2 separate regions of the Homo sapiens genome follow, and region 2 is linked to region 1. Evidence: fine-mapped QTL for protein levels in blood plasma. A gene starts in region 1. The other region holds a variant in brackets. All regions are shown on one strand. Distances are between the middles of the regions.

What was found. PIP is the chance, under the fine-mapping model, that this variant and not a neighbour inherited with it causes the effect. Protein levels are from antibody-based Olink assays in UK Biobank. Linkage for the fine-mapping came from a reference panel and not from the study's own genotypes, which makes the PIPs less certain.
Region 2: its variant is fine-mapped to the plasma level of the PTN protein (UK Biobank, PIP above 0.99).

Annotation. Positions count from the first base shown.
Region 1 is chr7:137,337,895-137,346,926 of GRCh38, forward strand. It overlaps PTN (pleiotrophin), which reads right to left and starts at 5,839. Exons shown (of 5, transcript NM_002825.7): 1 at 5,545-5,839. RefSeq lists promoters at 5,633-7,797, 5,633-6,378 and a cis regulatory region at 6,382-6,391.
Region 2 is chr7:137,437,246-137,447,294 of GRCh38, forward strand. It overlaps DGKI (diacylglycerol kinase iota), which reads right to left. Exons shown (of 33, transcript NM_001321708.2): 28 at 6,832-6,857. Among named protein-coding and RNA genes, the nearest start is that of PTN, 99 kb to the left of the region's middle. RefSeq lists an enhancer at 2,529-3,045. The variant A/G (reference allele first, on the strand shown) is at 6,583.

The DNA of each region.
Region 1 (9,032 bases):
TTAGAGCTGCCTATTTTCTCACTCATTTGCCATCTTCAATGGTTCTATGCTAAATATGCTAGGGTTCTTGAGAGAATGAGAGACAGCCCTTGCCTTAATAGGGTGCACAGGTTGGATGGGGTGGGGCTGGTGTCAAATGGTGAGAAAGGAGGAGCTGAAGTCACTATAAGGGGTGATGGGGAGACTTCGAAGACAAGGGAAGAAATATAGCTCCACCTAGAGGGGGCATTTGCCTTGGAAAACCTTTGGTGCCTTCAATTTCCGACTCAAGATTTCACCCAAATTCCACAGCTGAAGTACAAGGATTTGCCTTCTTTCCCTTCATGTATATGTTTTCATTAAAGGACACTCTTCTCTTCTGGTATAAATTTTCCTGAAAAGGACATCTACAGGGAGTGCCATGTCTTAAAAATTATATTGATTCTAAATAAACTCAGTCTGAATTCTTAAGTTGTCACTTCCAATAATTTGTTTCTGCTACGTTATGTGGCAAATGTGAAATGAAAACACGAAGGAATCAGGAGTTCAATTTCCCTTCCAGAATAAACAGCATTAAAGGAACAAACAGACATAATGCTTTTGAAATAGACGTTGCGTACCATTTAGCCTTTTGTGAGCTCCACTTTCCTTTTTCTCATAAAAATGTGATCCCTTTGTCATTGGAACTGCTTAGGGCAACAATTGTACATATCTTCCTCTAACCTGTGTTGTAGTAATTAGTGTTTTAATGTTCTTACATATATATTGAGTAGATCATTAGCTGCTTGAAGACATATTTATTTGTCCTGTTTCCCTCATCACACTACCTACCATATAGTATGTCAGTCACTATGCGTAAAAGTCTGGTAGGGATAAAAATAAAATAACAGGAAGTCCTTTACTTCAATCTCCTCCTCCAAATAGAATTGTGCCTGAATGATTTCCTTCAGTATTCATTGAAAAAATATTAAAAATGTGAGTCCAGAGCTCATTAGAGAGAATCTTCCTTCAATTCTCTTCAGATCTGAGAATTTTCCTTGTGAAGGAGTTAAAGCTCAAAGAAGAGTTGTGACAATACTAAAGCATTTGGAGAGGAGAGAGGAAGGCGGGAAACTGAAATATTTGGAAATAAATGTACACATTTGGAAGACAAGAAAAAAAAAAGCAAAACAAAACATGAAAAAAGGAGTGCCCAAAGAAATTAGGAAAACATTAAGACAATAACATATCAAGGAGGTTACAGTATGAGATAATCATAAAATGTTGGGATTAGCAATCTGTGACTTTTAAAGCATCTTTTCCAGAGATGGGTGAGGGTATAATGGATTTTAATTGAGATCTCCTTTAAATACATTTCTAATAAAGAATTTCACAAGTTCACACCACGTACCAAACACAAAGTATTAGATATTGTGAAACCATAGAGATAGACACCATGTTCTATTTCTTAAACATGCTACATTGTCCAGCACAATGTAGTATTAGGCATCCAACATACGTACAATAAATATTGTTAAATTGGCTGGCCACAGGAGCAAGAAAAATTGTATTGTTGGAGTAGGACCCCGAGACGATGTGATGGACATGAGTAACTCCAGCTGCGCCTCTACATTGATGTTGGGAAACTGAGAAGAGAATGAGGTCAACATTGCAGTGATGAAAATGTTGCCTGACCCTTAGGCAGGGTCTTGAATCAAAAAAAAAAAAAAAAATGGGGGAAAAATGCCATTGAATCAGTAGAGAGGGCACTGGTGTTGAAAACATCAGCTAGGAAGGTCCAAGCTTCCAAGAATGCCAACATATGGGCAGGCATTCCTGGTACATCCGTACATAGAGAAATGTATGCCATCATAGCAAGAGGGAATTGGGCAAGACGTTCTGGGACCTGTTGGGTGGGAAATAGTGGCAACCAAATTAATGGAGAAATGAGAGAAAAGAAGGAGAAATAGGTAAATGTAAAAGCAGGAAGAAAAGGGAGCAAAGGGTTAGAGACAGAATGCTATTTGTGTTTTAAAATTATGTTTTAGCTTTTGCTAAGAGCAATTCTTAGAATTAAGAGCCCAATTATCAGTTACTATGAGTCACTTTTTTCAAGATTAATATACAGCGCTTGATTTTTTGTTACACTATGTGTGAAGTTGAAAAAAATCTAAGACTTCTATTTTTAGAAAACTGGATATGATTTTTTTCTGTTTGAGATATCACTTTATCTCAACCCACTCTGAAAAAATGGTTCAATAAATAAAGCCTAGAAAAATGAATTAAATTTTATCCCTAAAAATATCTCAAACATGAAGGAGTCATTGTATTCCTTGTCCACCCTGAAGAAATAGAGATTTGTGGTGAATGTGATCTACATAATTAAGTCCACAATATTCCCATATTTATAATACCCTCTGATAGTGTTCCATCATAGCTACCCTTTTAAGATACTGTTTTAATTTCTTATTTACTAAATGCCAAAATAGAAAGAAAAAGAGGTTTGTTATATTTTACAATCTAGAAATATTGTAATGACACCATGAAAACTATGCCGCACACTAGACTGGCTTGAAGTGGATGGAAAAATAGCCCAGTGGGTGGAAACTTGAATTGTCCATAAACATCAGAAGGAAAAACAACTTTCCACGAGGCCATGGCCCAAATTCCACTTAAGCCAATTGACTCTGGATGGAAAAAAGCAAGCCCAGCTCATAAAAAGAAGGTTCATATCTGAGTATCATCTTACTTCGCCTCCCACAGCAGTGACATGACCTTGTGCCAGAAGGAGGCAAAAACTCTTCGACTATTCATTTAGAACAGAAGCCAGAGCTAAAAACATTCCTCACCCTTATGGAGAAGCCCAACTCAACATCACTAGCAAAGCTATGGAACAAAGGCCATTGGAGAGCTCCCACTCAGCCTCATGCTCCAGAGAAAAGCACATCTCAAACTGGGCTGAGGTGCACTCAGGTGTGGAGGATGTTTGCACTCATCACATTGGGTGGTCTCAGTCTGGACACCTCCTTCCTGAGAGAAGTCAAGAACAACTCCCCATATCATTATGCCGCCATATTAAAAAGCATAATTCTTTAGAGAACTGGAATTTGTATTCTGAATTCTGACTTCAGGCCCTCAATCTATTGTTAATTTATCACACCATTTTCAACGAGCCGGGTAAACTCGATTTTGTGGGAAATTTTTGAATAGTAATTAAAAACACCACATGACAAATAGGAATATGGTCAGAATTCATGTGAGAATGCCATGTAAGTGAGAAAGCAAAAATATCTTCAAAGGAAAAATAAAATATTTAAAGTTAAAATATTTGATATCTAAGATTGATTTTACTAAAAAAAGTGATTCAACTATCTGGGGATCTTATTTCTCTCTGTTGTTTTCAACAACTAGGCTTTTATGAAATTTTAAACCAGGCCATTGGCTTGACTGAAATTTTTTTAAAAAATGAAAATGCTCATTAAAAAGAAATGTAGATCTTGTTATGTGTTGCTATATGTGAAGCCCAAATAAGGCATATGGAAAATATCAATAAATTAATACGTTTATTAAACCAAATCTCATGATCTCATGGAAAGGGGTCTAAAAAAACAGAGAATTATATATAATACATATAATACATTAGACTATAAATATAGTTAGGTATACCTTATTACTCTAATTATCTATAATATCTCATTTAAAGTCAGATAATTAAAAAGTCATGTATCTAATAGTACTTTTATTTATCTCAAGCTCTAGCTTTGAGAACATAATGCATTTGCATCCAGAAGCAAACAGCTGGAACACAGCACCTAATGCTGTTATATGTGGCTTCAGGTGGGAGTTCCTTATAGTGGCTTTTCACTAAATGCAGAAAAAGATGTCCTAAAGGGAACCAGTGAGCAGTGGCAGAAAAAAGATCACCTTCTATTTATTTAAAGTACAATTAGAGAACTTAAGGCCCAAGTTTCTTAAAGCACAAAAGGATGGCATTAGAGTTTTTTTTAAATAATATAATTTTTTAAAATCTCATCTTCTAATTTAAATGAAAAAGTACAAATATTGCCAGTCTGAAATAACTCATGTCCCAAAGGAAGAAAAAAATATTCATTCTAATTTCCTCTGAATTTAACTGGACTATATTTTTTAAACGACTTGGCCTTTAAAGTGCATAATTTACTTAAAAGGAAACATAATGAAGATGGAAAATACAGCTTTATTTTCTGTGTTGGGAGACTTCTCTTTTGTTTCATTGTCATTAACTTTCAATATTTCTACATATCAATGCATTCCCGGATAATTAAGGGGCTAAAATGGGCCCTGCTGTTTCATCAATTCCACATTTGCCTAGGATCATAAAATGTTTCATTATGTTATTAGTCCAGAGCTCTTTTTGGTGATTTCTAAATCTCCTCCCAGACCCCTCTCTCTAGCACACACACACGCACATGCACACGCACACACACACATCACCCCTTTCTCAAGCTGCTAAAGCAAAATGCCTGATAACTCTTAAAATGAGAGATGCTCAAGGACCGCAGCTTTAATATTTTCTCCTCTTAGCACCCCTACCCCTCCTATTTTCTGAATGTGTCCCCAAACTTACAAAGCAGCTCTTAACAGACACAAGGGTGAGTTAACACTAGAGTGTATATAAACTGCATGTGTGTGTTCCTGTGTGTGTGTGTGTGTGTGTTGTGTCACATTATGTCATGGAGAAAGGGGTGTGTGTGTATGGAGAGGAGAGAGGAGGTTTCACTTTCCATCTATTAAGAAAGGAGTTGAATACATTCCTCTCAAAAAATGTTTTCTTAACTTATTAGAAACAACAACTCAGAAACTCTAAATATCTAGTAAATTAGTAACAAATATATCCTAAATTTATGTGGGTCAAATTAAAAGTTTAAGGGTCTATGTACTGGGCAGTTCTTTAAATTTGCATTCAAATGAGAGATGGGACTCCAGGTGTGTCTTCTAAACTTTGGACCTAACCATTTCTGGAACCATTCCTGGGCTGTCAGGTGGGAAGACGGGTGCCAGTAGTTCCGTGAGAGACGTTTCATGTCAGCTAGCACTGGGAGGAACAAGCCCCCACAGCTTACCTAGAAATGCCAGCTAAGAGTCATGGGCTGACAGGCTCTGGGGCAATCAGAGAATCAGAGAGAGGCTGGGAAAATGAGAGCTGCTTGTTCAGGCTGCCTTACTTTCTTTGCACCTACCCAGCCAGAGACACACCTACTAAAGCTCCAGGTTTTACAAAAAGCAAAGATGCACTCTCCAGCCCACCCTGTCTTGCTCTCCAGCTGGTAGCTGGAACACGGTCCAAATACATGCTTAACATCACAAAAACTTCTTTCCTTTCACTTACCTAAGCACACCCGAACTAACCTAACCTGAAACCCCAAAAATATGCCTCCCTTGGCCTCTGGAGCAAGTCAGTTTTGAAAGCAGTCCTATCAGCAAAGACACCAGGCAGCCTCTCTCACCCCTACCACCATCATCTGCTGGCACCCAGAAAAGTGGCACAGGGTGAAGGCAAACTCGATCGAAGAGCCCTCCGAGAAATCGTACGTTCCTCTCACTTACTTTGAGTTGGAAACGTCCTCTCTGGCGCTCAGTCTGCCTTTGTTGCAAGGGGCGAGGTTGCTACCGCTGAGTCCAGGTACCCGGCTCGCTGCAGCTCCTGCTTGGGCCGCTGCTGCTCTCCCCGCCTTCTGGACGGATGACTCACTGGTCTCTTTCTTCCCCTCTCTCCACTTTGGATTTTCCTCTGCTCTGGGGCTCTCTTGGCGGGATTTTTGGACTGGAAGGCGGGGAACCTGATCCTGCCTTTGACTCAATTACGCCCTGACAGGGAGGGAACGGAAGGGAAATGGAGAATGGGAGGGATGAGAGGAGCGGGCCAGGAGGACGAAGGCTGGGCGAGGGAGGGAGAGCGCTTTGCACTCGAGAGCTGATTGGGAAGCTTATTAAAAGCAGAATACTCCAGGGGCAGTCTCTCCCTGCGGAGCAAGAAAACGGATTTGAACCAAGAGGCCATGAGATGGTACCTTGTTTTGTTTTTAGCAGAGACGAAACACAACATTTCTTTTCCAAACTCCACCCATGATCTATTCTTCAGATGAGTGCAAAGCCACTTTGCCAAATAGGATATTTTAAATGGACAATTGATGGCATTTTAGGTTACATTTTTGGCCCCCCACAATCCTTTAATGATATTCAGAATGGAAAAGCACTCTCTTCAAACCAGCCTCTTCTTCCACCCACGAAAGCCCTCTCTAAACACAGAGACAGTAAGGTGTCAGTCACATCTCACCTGCAAAGCACAAAATGTACAAAGTACTTTTTCTCAATTGTCACAAAGAGTGACAGACGTCTCAAAGTTCCCAATTAAGTGCTACTTACCTTTAGGGAGAGCTCTTTCCTTTTTTGGTTTCCTTGGTGCCTTTAGCAACCTATTTAGTAACATGCCTTTGACACCCAAGAATTTAGAGGATTCGTCAAAGTAGCTCAAACTCTGAGGTTTGTAAAACTTGGAGGCTGGGCTTTGCGTCTCTGGAATTGTCATTTCATTCAATACAGGAAAGACGCTAAGGCAATGCATAGGTAAATATTTATGATAAAGATGAGATAAAAGTATTGTGTAAAAGGATTAAGATGTATTATACAAATTCACCCAAACATTTTCGAAATGTAAATTTCGAGATTTTCTGCCACTTATCAGCTTTTCCTGCTCCGTGGCTAGCTCCTTTTACCTACTTTTACCTTTACTGGTCAGCTTATCATTTGATGGCGTCCTTCCCAAATTGGTTGTAAAATAGACCACATTTTTCATAATTCTGAGGTTACATCCCTTCATTTCAATTTGACAAATATTTATTAAGCAATTTGTTTACTTAGAACTATCCTTAAATCCCCAAATTAGAAGCATTGTCTTGTGGCAAGTAGTTTTTAGGGACTTGGGGCTCTTCTATTGACAGCTACCTGTAGAAATGTCCCTTGGAGAAGTTGACTGGAGCCAGACGTGGCTCTACAAACTCAATCAAGCAGTCAATCAAGCTTTTCAAAAGGAAAGGCATCAGAGATGCACTTACACACCTACAATTTATCCCCCTTCCCAAACTCTTCATATACATACCACATACAATTCTCAAATGAAATAACTAAATAAGGAAGCTGTGTTCCTTTCTCCTACACACAGGCTTCAGGTTACCTGTTTTCCTTTTGTGATTCCACTTCTGTGTGAAGCAAGCAGTGCTTGTTTTAATCAGATTTCACCTGTATAAAGTGTGGAGAAACGCACATTAGCATTTTTTTTTGGCATTTTTCCCAGTCCCTTTACCAAAAAAGATATCTCAGCATTCTATTAACACTCCATAGGGGCAAAGTTTCTAAGGCATTGAACAAAGAGCTATCCATTTTCTTTCTGTTCTTCAGCTTTATGTTAACATATACAAATGTAACATACAGCTAGCTACCAGTTAGGTGAACAATGCTGGCTTGATTGAGGTGTTCTCTATAGGGCTGATAAAGTAAGCATGAGATTCCCATGATTTCTACTCAATTACATATGTTACACCAAAAATATCACCCTTTATTCAGATGGGTATATACTAAAATTGTATACATCAGTGATTATCAATTGGGAGCAGTTTTGCCCTCCAGGAAAAGGGAATAATGTCTGGAGGTAGTCTTGGTTGTCGCAACTTGGTGGAAGGGGTTGCTCTGGATCTAGTGGGTAGAAGCCGGGGATGCTGTAAAACATCATACAATGCATAGGACAGCCTTTGTTACCAGAAAGCGGTCCCGGTCCAGACCCCAAGAGAGGGTTCTTGGATCTCAGTTGCAAGAAAGAATTCAGGGCAAGTTCATAGAGTAAAGTGAAAGCAAGTTAATTAGAGAGGTAAAGGAATAAAGAATAGCTAGCTACTCCATAGGCAAAGCAGCCCCAGTGGCTTCTGGCTGTCCATCTGTTTGGTCATTTCCTGATTGTATGCTAAACAAGGGGTAGGTTATTCATGAATTTTCCTGGAAAGGGGTTGGCAGCTCCCGGAACTGAGGGTTCTTCCCCTTTTTAGACCATATATGGTAACTTCCTGACACTGCCATGGCATTTGTAAACTGTCCTGTGCTGGTAGGAGTGACTTTTGGCATGCTAATGTGTTATAATTAGCATGTAATGAGCAGTGAGGACGACCAGAGATCACTCTCGTGGCCATCTTTGTTTTGGTGGGTTTTGGACGCCTTCTTTACAACAAGCTGTTTTATCAGCAAGTTCCTTATGACCTGTATCTTGTGGCAATCTCCTATCTCATCCTGTGACTTAGAATGCCTAACTTCCTGGGAATGAAGCCCAGTAGGTCTCAGCCTTATTTTACCCAGCACCTATTCAAGATGGAGTCGCTCTGGTTTAACCACCTCTGACACCTCCACAACAAAGAATTATTTGGCCCAAAATGTTAACAGGGCTGAGGTTAAGAAAACCTAATGTTATTCACCATGGTATTTTAAAAATGCAAAGACGGATTAAAGAGAGTTTTTTTTTTAATAAATAGAAATTTATGAGATTGAGATTAGTCATAATTTAATTCAATCCAGCATTTTCATCAAAGTTGAAGTAGAATGTTTTTTAATACACAGTGAAATACTCAGTTTCAAATCCGAACTTCATCCTACGGCATAGTCAGGGGTCTGTTGATTCCAGAGTCCAAGTTATTTCATTCATTAGGCTAATATTCTTTAAGCACTTAAGTCTTTAGCTTGATAGAGCTATGAAGAAAAACTGTTGACAGTCCCTACTCTCAGATAGCCTATGTTGTTGTTCTTTCTTTCTTCTGAGATGGAGTTTCACTCTTGTTGCCCAGGCTGGAGTGCAATGGCGTGATCTCGGCTCACCCAGGTTCAAGCAATTTTCCTGCTACAGCCTCCTGAGTAGCTGGGATTACAGGCATGCACCACCACACCTGGCTAATTTTGTATTTTTAGTAGAGATGGGGTTTCTCCATGTTGGTTTGGCTGGTCTCGAACTCCCGACCTCAGGTGATCCACCCACCTCAGCCTCGCAAACTGCTGGG
Region 2 (10,049 bases), 100 kb after region 1:
CTCTTCCCACAAAAAGACGCTTCAGATAAGATTTATGAATTTAAAACTTTAGCAGGAATATTGATAAAGAAACAAGATTTTAAAATTCAACTGCATTTCAATATGCCAGCAAAGACTACTTAGAAAACATAATTTTAAAAATACAACATACAAATTGTCACTAAAAATATAAAGTACCTAGGAATATATTTAACACAAAAATGACCAAATCCTTCATGAAGGAAATTATAAAACTCTATTCATAGCCATTTGAAAAAGCCAATTAAATGTCAAGAGATGTGGCTTGGAATAGAATGATGCATTATCATAGAAATATCAATTTTCTTTATACAAATTTATAGATTCATGCAATTTTCATAAAAAATTTCACCACAAAATTTGATACGCTAATTTTATAATTTATATGAAACAGGCAAAACTCAATTATAACCAAGTCACTCCCAAAGGACAAATTACAGGATATATCCTCCAACAGATATCTGGACTCATACCAAAGTTATAACAACTAAAACAATAGCACAGGGATAGATATATTCATCAATATAACAGAAAATAGAACCTAGAGACTCACATTTACAGGGAGACGACAGACTTTGTAAGTCAGTGAAGAAAATGAATGAAAATGAAATAGCTAGTTATGTATATGAACAGAATCAAAATTAAATTTGACCTTTATCTCTTACCAAACCACAAAAATCAATTCCAAGTTATCAAATATTAAAGAAAGCATTCTAAAAATTTTACAAGACAATATCTTTATGATTATGCTTTGAAAGATTTCTTTAAAAAATACCAAAGGCATAAACCATAGAGAAAACATTAATGATTTTACTGCAGTAAAATAAAGAATATCCATCTATTCATCAGATGACATCAAAAAGAGCTCGAACAGATAAGCCACAAACTGGAGAAAATTTGCAACACACATAGGAAACAAAATAATTTTTACATAGAATACATTAAAAAGTTCATAAATCATTAAGAAGAACACAACCAACCAGGTGGGGAAAAGTGAGTAAAAGAAATAAAAAGACCTTTCATAGAAGAGTAAACACAAATGGCCCATAAGTATATGAAAAGATGTTTGATCTCATGTGTAATCATTGACTACAAATTAAAATCACATTGAGATGCCATTTCATACTTTCACAAGACTAGCAAACATTTTTAAATTAGTTAATATCAAGTGTTGGTGAGGATGTAGATCAATGGGAACTCTTATCCACTGAAGTTGGGAGTGTATATTAAAATGATCACTCTGGAAAACAACATGTTATAATGCTATAAGTTAAATATGTGTATAATCTACCACCTAACTTAAGCTATTCCCAGGTTTAAGCGCATGGATACGAGGAAGAGTTACAAAAAAGAGAATGTTCATAGTAATATTGTTTGCAAGAGCAAAACAAAAACAAACCCCCAAGAAACCTGTTATTTATGTAAATATTCATTAGCAGATTGGATATATAAATTGGTATATACTCATACAATAGAGTAGTATACAACATGAACTATTGATGAAATGCATATGGCACTCATCCATAAGGATGAATCACAAAAATTATTCTTTTGAACAAAAGAAACAAATAACAACATGATTCAATTTGTACAAATTCAAAATACATAAAACTATGTACACACACACATATACACACATATAGGAATACATATATGAGTTATATATCCACGTATCCATTCATATGTAAGATATGCATATATGTAGTAAAACAAGAAGAAACAAGGACATGATTAACAAAAAGGCAGAATAGTAGTTATTTCTGAAGGAGAGGGAAGGGGACATAATTAGGGAAGCAAATGACATGAAGCTCCCAAATTCCTACAAATGTTTTACTTCTTAGTCTGAGGGCCAAGTACACAGTAGTTCGTTTTGCTTATTATTTAAACTGAGCAGATAACATTTTATATATTTTATGAATAGTATCTATTTCAGTAATATACATGAAAGAAAAGTGAATTGATGAGGTACAGCCATTGATGCCTCAAAGAGTTTGGGCCACGCCACAGTGTGTTTCACTGCATAACTGTATTAATCCATTCTCATGTTGCTAATAAAGACATACTCAAGACTGCATAATTTATAAAGGAAAGAGGTTTAATGGACTCACAGTTCCATATGGCTGGGGAGGCCTCACAATCATGGCGGAAGACGAAGGAAGAACAAAGGGATGTCTTACATGGTGGCAGGCAAGAGAGAGCTTGTGCAGGGGAACTCCCATTTACAAAACCATCAGATCTCATGAGACTTATTCACTATCACGAAAACAGTATGGGGGAAACTGCTCCATGATTCAATTATCTCTACCTGGCCCCATCCTTGACACATGGGGATTATTACAATTCAAGGTGAGATTTAGGTGGGGACACAGCCAAACCATATCAGTAACCTACTGCCAAGTACAGCCGTCTCCAAGCCTGACAGTGGATTCATTATTGAACACTTTACACTAGTGATTGTGGTTGTGACAATTTTATTTCCAAATAGCCATTACTGCAATTCATGTCCACTATGTTACTGCTGCAACAAAAAAGCTGCCCTAGAATGTGACGGCCATAGTTGACAACAGGTCTAAGAGGTAGGACAGGAGAGGGATGCCTGCCTCAGATGTTCCAGTGGGGCATGCAGCAGATTGCTGGCACTTTCTTTGAGAAGCCACTAATGCCTTTTATTTTGTAAATGAACAGACATTAGTTGGAAGATGACCTGCCCTGAGTGTGCTGGCACAGGTAGCAGCAGTAAGTGAAGCAGCGGTAAGCGCAGCATTCCAAGGAGCCTGTAAAATAAGCAGGCTAAGGTGACAGAAAGGAAGATGAGTTCTCAGAGCCAGGGAAGCAGCCTGGGCCCAGGAGATGGCTCCAGGAGCAATTTAAATGACGAAGTGATAGGCATTCAATACAGAGGAAATGCAGAGGACAGTGCAATCAATCACTGCCAAGCTTATCTTCTAACAAGGAGTAGGGCTCCAGTTTCCAGATGTAACATTAAAACTTAATGTTTCCACTGGGGTTTAGCATGGCAGGTTTCCCTGAAACTTCAGTTTCACTCAGTTAACTAATTATGAGAAAATGTGACATTGGTATTTCCTTTTTCTACAGGGACAAATCATTACCAGCAGGAGGGAGAAGTTGTTATTTTTGTTCTGCTCTGTTTTGTCATTAAAAAGAAATTAACTTACACAGTAGTAAATATACTCTTGTTAGAGGAGGGAAGAATTATCTCCATAGTTCTATCCATTCAATCATGTCTTTGGTTTTCCAGGGACATGGCCGATAAAAGAGAGTTAAGAGTTTGATTGTTAGAATTGGGTCTGAAAATTAACTCTCTCACCTACTAGCTATGTGACCTTAAGCAAGTTATTTAAGCACTCTGAGCCTGCTTTTGCAGCTGTGAAACTGGGGGTGATACATTGACTACAGAGTGTTATTTGTGAAAGATGAAAGGACATAAGGCAGTTGGAGCATGCGAGCACAGTGCTTCTGCATAATAAGCACTCAATACAATTTAGCCTTTATTCTTAGTGACCCTGATGCGCTATTATATAAATATAGAAACAGTTTATGTGTCATTTAGACCTTGTGTTGCCAATTCTATATGACCACACATCTAATCATCAACTGAGCCTTTACTCTGGCACTATAAGCTAAATGGTGTATTAAACATTTTACTCCTCCTCACCCTGATGTAATAAAAGGTTTCCAGAGAAAATTTAATGATAATGAAAAAAACGGTTATTCTCTCCCGTCCTCTTTAAACTTTTCAAGGGCGGAACATAATCCCGAGCAAACATCACAGATAAACTTGTGCTTCCTCTTCTACTGCCTGGATGCTAGCGAATAATACTATGTTTGGGGTGCTTTTAACAAATCAGAAAGTGGGCCGGGCACGGTGGCTCATGCCTGTAATCCCAGTACTTTGGGAGGCCGAGGTGGGCGAATCGAGAGGTCAGGAGATCGAGACCATCCTGGCTAACACGGTGAAACCCCGTCTCTACTAAAAAATACAAAAAATTAGCCGGGCATGGTGGCGGCCGCCTGTAGTCCCAGCTACTTGGGAGGCTGAGGCAGGAGAATGGTGTGAACCCGGGAAGCAGAGCTTGCAGTGAGCCGAGATCGTGCCACTGCACTCCAGCCTGGGCGACAGAGTGAGACTCCGTCTCAAAAAAAAAAAAAAAAAAAAAAATCAGAAAGTGATTTCACAAATGATTTCTCAATTGAACTTGCTACAATCCCATGAGGTACGCAGTTTATGATTAGCTCCATTTTACAGACAAGGAAAAGAAAACAAACAAGATAAGGTAAAGGACAAAGCCACTGTATTTAAGCTCTCTATGCAAGAGTACCATGGGAATGAAAAATACCAGGGTTATTGGACGTTGCAAAATTAGATTTTTCCAAGAATAAGTTCTTGTCTTAGAGCCAAAGTGACTAGTTATTACAGAGGGAGGACTATTTGAGGAAAGCAAACAAAATAGAAAATCAAGAGACGTAAGGTTTTATATTCCAATTTCACAATCCATGTGTCCAACATGCCTTAAATTTTCTACCAATAAATTTGAGAAAGACAAATTGCTACTTCTCACCTCTCCTACAAGTGTGTTGCAATGCCATTATTGTGTACAAATAATATGTAAGATTGATGCTATAACATTCAAGAGGTTTTATACTAGCCATAGTACACATGAGCTCTTAAAAATGTATAAAAAGAAGGAAATATATTTTGAGTGGTGGATAGAAAATTCTGGTAATAAAGAAAAAAGCTTTTTTTCAAGAATATATGGGCTAGAAAATGATGAACAATTACATAGGATTAGGTAAATCATCACTATAATTTTGCATTATGTACTTGAACTATTTTTGGAAGTCACAGAAACAAACTAAGAGGTATGAACATGTAAGAAATTTTTTGAAGCCATGAAATTATAATGGCCCTCTAATTTCAATAATGTTTCTTCAACTAATCACATATAAGGTTCTTAAAATAATCAATTCTGAAGTGCTCTTAATCTTCCAAGCAAGTCTTTCTGTCAGTAGTCACCCTTTAGGACTTCAAAGGACCCTGACATATGCCCCCTATTATTTCATAACCACTTAAGAAGTCCTAGTGGATTATCAAATTATAATTCACAAGTTTCCCTCACCCACCATTTTTGTCTGAATGAGGAATAAATTCTCATAGACAGGAAGGCAAAGACAACCAAAAGTCATTAAAGGGAATCCTAGTTCAAAATAAAAACCAAACACAAGCTTCTAGTTTATAATGTGAACATGGAAGCCCAAGGGCCTATATAAATGGGCAAACACCTAGTAATACCAACAGCAATCAGCAAAATAGCACATAATAGCAGGTTACCATTAGGTGGTCAATTGCCTGATCCTGACTTAATGGGCCTGAACATAATTTTCCCTATGATTCTTCATAGAGAATAACACAACTTCATTCCAGTACTAAGTCAGATTTCACAATGTGGCAGTAGAAGAGGCCAGCCTAAAACTCCTTCTCCCTTTTCTTAATTCATTCATTTAATAAACACTTTTTCCTTGTTTGCTCTTCGTTGGAAACTATATCAAAGAACTCATAGTCTAATAGGGAAAACAGGTAAATAAAGCATGAAATTTGCGCATTAAGCCCTAGAATGTAGAAAAATATTAGGCACAACGATAAGCAGATCAGCAAGCCCTTACAGAGGATGAGGTGAGGTGCATAGAAACCATCTATATGGCAAAAGAAGTAGCATCCTGTCAGAGAGAACAGTATGGAGAAAAGCAGGGAGATGGCAGAAAAGATGGTGAGCTCCAGAAATTTGATGTAGAATTAGATGTATTGTCACATGGCTGGAAAACAGATCATGGGTAGGAGAAGGGAAAAGATGGTAAATGAAGCAATAAGCAGTGGAGGAAGACAAAGATTCCATCATTTAGTGCTTACTAGTCCATGCTAAAATACAATATTGAAAAGCTGAACACAATTATTGGTCGGCTGGAAAGATTTCATTCTAGAGGCCATCGGAGCAGATTTTTACTATGGAACGATCATTTTGGTGCTAGCCCGGTATACAGTGTACTAGGGAAAAGAAATATAGAGGTATGGATACCAATTATGAGAGAATTTCCAAAGTCCAAGTAAGATACAAAGGGGCCCCAAACCAAAGTTCCATATAGCATATTTGTAAAACATAACTACATAGCATAACTGATCATTGTAGACACTTAACACTTTTGTGACTGATTGGATAAATGAACAACTCCAAAGGTGAGATGGAACAAAATGAGATATTTTCTCTTTTGAGTGAATTAGCTGTCTCTTAAAATGCAAACAATTCATCTCAACTGGGTAACAACAAATACCACTGACTGCTTGCCTTCCTTTCAGATTTAGAGTGCTCTTCACAAATGAGTGATTGGAACATGATCCCAATGTCCATTCTGGAAGGGACTGTAGGGAATATCTACCACAAACTACCACAAAAATTTTTATCATTTTAAGGATAAAAATCTGAGTCATAAAAAGCACAGGACTAGTCCAAAACCACAAAACCACAAAAAGTTTCTGCTGATGGGACTGAA[A/G]TCAGGCAGAATAAATTAAGGCTTCACAATATTCGTCAACCAGACGGGTTGGAACAGATTTGAAAGATATCAAATTCAGCTAGGGTGATTTAAGTTTTTAAAAGTGTTTGACATTTCACATTCAAAAACCACAAAGCCAATATCTTAGAGACATTTGCTTAAACAATTATTTGCTCTGACAATGAACTGCAAAGACCAGGGGTCAAGTTTCAATCCTGAATTGGTATAAATAAGACAGATGATTCTTACCATGATCTTCTGAAGAGACTGGTGACCTAAAAGGAAATAATAAGCATGATCAATATTTTATATGATAATTATAATGATAATCAAGAATAATTTCATAGTAATTTTACCCTCAAATTGAATTAAATGGAAAGTCAATATAGTAGACAGTGTAATTAATGTGTTGATTGCATGGTATATTTCAATCAACAATTCCCAACTCTTACCTGGATTGGTTGGATGTTACAGGTTACTAAAATATCAGTCTATGCATGGTGTCCTAGGACTGCAACAAACTTAGCTAAGTCTAGATTTACCACACAAAAAAAGAGAACTCATAGAAATGTAGTATAGATGAAATCCTGTGATGTGTATTGCCCAAGGACATGGCTCCAGCCAGGGATATAAAAAAAGCATTAGATTGGGTGTCTGTAGATACAAAGAGATCTACTTGAACAGTATAAATTGAGACAGAGGTAAAAGAAATAGCATGCACCCTTATCATTACCAGTTTTTGTTTTCACTCTTCATGGAATTTAATGTTTGAGTGAGCTGACCCTCTATTCGCTGCATTATGTCTCAGAACCCGGGAGAAACAGCATGAGGCCAGAAGGCAATCACTGAGGTTCCTCAGAACTTTATCAACAACTTTTGCAAACTATATGTGAGTTCTGCTTTAATTATGATAATCAGATCTCAAATGAAAAATCATATCAACCCTAAAAGGCTTGCTTCCCCCCAGTTGACTACTAGTTGAAATACTTTGAGTAGTATAGACCTAAGTTTGGAGATGAATTCACCTCCAGCTTGAAGACTACGGCTTTGACTCACACTTATTCTTTTCTGAGGAGAAAGAGAGAGACATATAACATTATATTCAGAGTTGTTGAAATTTCGAAGGGAAAGACAAGACATCACATACTTCCCCTATTTTGAAGGAGTCCTCTTCTCTGAATGATTGGCTCACTCAAATCCATAGCAGGGAAATGGCCAAAGATAAACTCAGGAGTTTGGCAATAGAGCTGCCAATTACTATAACTAATATTTATGAGACATGAAGATAAACCTCAGGACAAGAATCATTCAGTCAATACAAAAATGGTTGAAAATAATTTTTAGCTACTTTGGGATGCTTGATATGACTTTATCTACTGGTTAGTAAGATTACTGTTTATTATGTGAGTGAACAGTAAAGAATAAAGACACAGTGGTAAAGGAGAAAAGGCCTTGAACCTCAATGAGTGGCAAAGTATCAATTTATTTCAACTGTGCAAATCTCTTAAAGTAGACTTTTTCATGAAAACTACAGAGTCCCAAGATTTGGTGGAAAGAAAATTGGCTTCTGGGAGATGGACATGGGGGTGGTGAGCGGAAACCTGCCACAATCCCTAGTCAACACTGCCTGAGAAGCACCATTTGGCCTCCCTGGGTAGGGTTGATTTATCCTCCCACTGGATTCCCTTATTTTTTATCATCCACATACCAGCCTTTCTCACTGGGTTGTAACCCCCTTGAAAACTAAGGCTGTATCTTATTTAGAACAGATGAGCCCTTAATTAAAATGTGTTGAATTGAATTAATCTCAGTTCCATCACACTGATATTCAGACTGACACATTCTGGAGCTTCCCAAAAAGTCATCATGTTACTGTAAAACCATCCTTAAGACAAGCTTGCCTGCTCCTAGGCCAGCTGCAAGGAAAAGTCCTAGAGACTTGAAAGTGCCTGAAGCTCCAATTGGTTATAATGTGGACACTCTCAGAGCCAAAGGACATCAAAAGCACCCAGAAACACAGGCACCCATATTCTGCCTCCATTATTATTAAAAATAAAGTTGGGGAGGGGAGTATTGAATGAGAGGTGAAATGAAATTAGAAGCTGAATCTAAAAGAGAACCTATATTTTAAGTAAGATGAGCTAATTTCTTCAGGTGCTTAGGTCATACTAGAATCAGCCACAAGGAAATATCTTTCCTCCTGGTGTTTGCTGATGAGAAGTAAGTGAAAACGTGTCTTGGATTGTTTGCAATTAATTTGTCACAGAGCTACAGGAACAAAGTAAAATTCATGCCAAAGGACAACTAAATGTCTCAAGTGGAGAGCTTGTGAAGCAAGGTCTTTGCTGGCTTTGTGCAAAAGCAAAGCCCTGATATTAAATCTGAAAAATTCCAGATGGCTCCGTTAGAGTCCCAAGGGGACGCATTCTGCAGTATGTCCAGGCAGTGGATAAAATATCAATTTCAGAGTGTTTTGTGAAAATTAGTCATGTTGAGTTTCCATGTTGAATGTCTCCCATATGCCTGGCTTTGTGGAATTTTAAGACATATGGAGTATTTCCATCCTCACTCAGTATTTCACCTTTCACTGCAACAAGTTACTGCACTGCACTACTGAGACATGCACATCATCCATTATTGCTGGAAATCGGCATAAAAAGTTAGCTCATGTGTGGATCACCTGAGGTCAGGATTTTGAAACCAGCCTGGCCAACATGGTGAAACCCCGTCTCTACTGAAAATACAAAAAGTAGCTGGGCATGGTGGTGGGTGCCTGTAATCCCAGCTACTCAGGGGACTGAGTCAGGAGAATCACTTGAACCTGGGAGGCAGAGGTTGCAGTGAGCCGAGACCGCGCCATTGCACTCCAGCCTGGGTGACAAGAGTAAAACTCTGTCTCAAAAAAGAAAGAAAGAAAGAGAGAGAGGGAGGGGAAAGAAGTTAGCTCAGGAGAGAAGAAATATTCTGAAATCAGCAATATAAGTAGTTATTTTAACAACAGAGGTTCAATCCCAAAAAGAGATAATTATCTTAAACCTGACAACTGAGGCATGCAGGAAAGCCCTCTGGTTATTCTTTTCACCACACCTGAAAGACATGTGGTTGTATCCCAGACTGTTTATTTTTCCTCCATGTATACTTTATCTTGGAGCAAGCATCTGCCCTTATAGTGTAAACTATTACTAGCATTCTTATAGCTGTCCTCTTCACTTCTTTCCTGATCATGAGTCCTTTAGCTACAGAATATTCATATTTGTTTGTGCTTTGTTTTTATTTATTTTGGTACTTTTTACATTTTATTTTGCTTAAATGCAGCAAAATAATACAAAACAAAAATTCAAGCCATGCATTTAAAAATATTTCTCCTACTAAGCCTAAATCATTATTATTCAGGTTTGACTCTCTCCATTTATGTTGATTCAATTTATTACTTGAGACCCTATTATTACCAGGCCATGTGCCAAGGG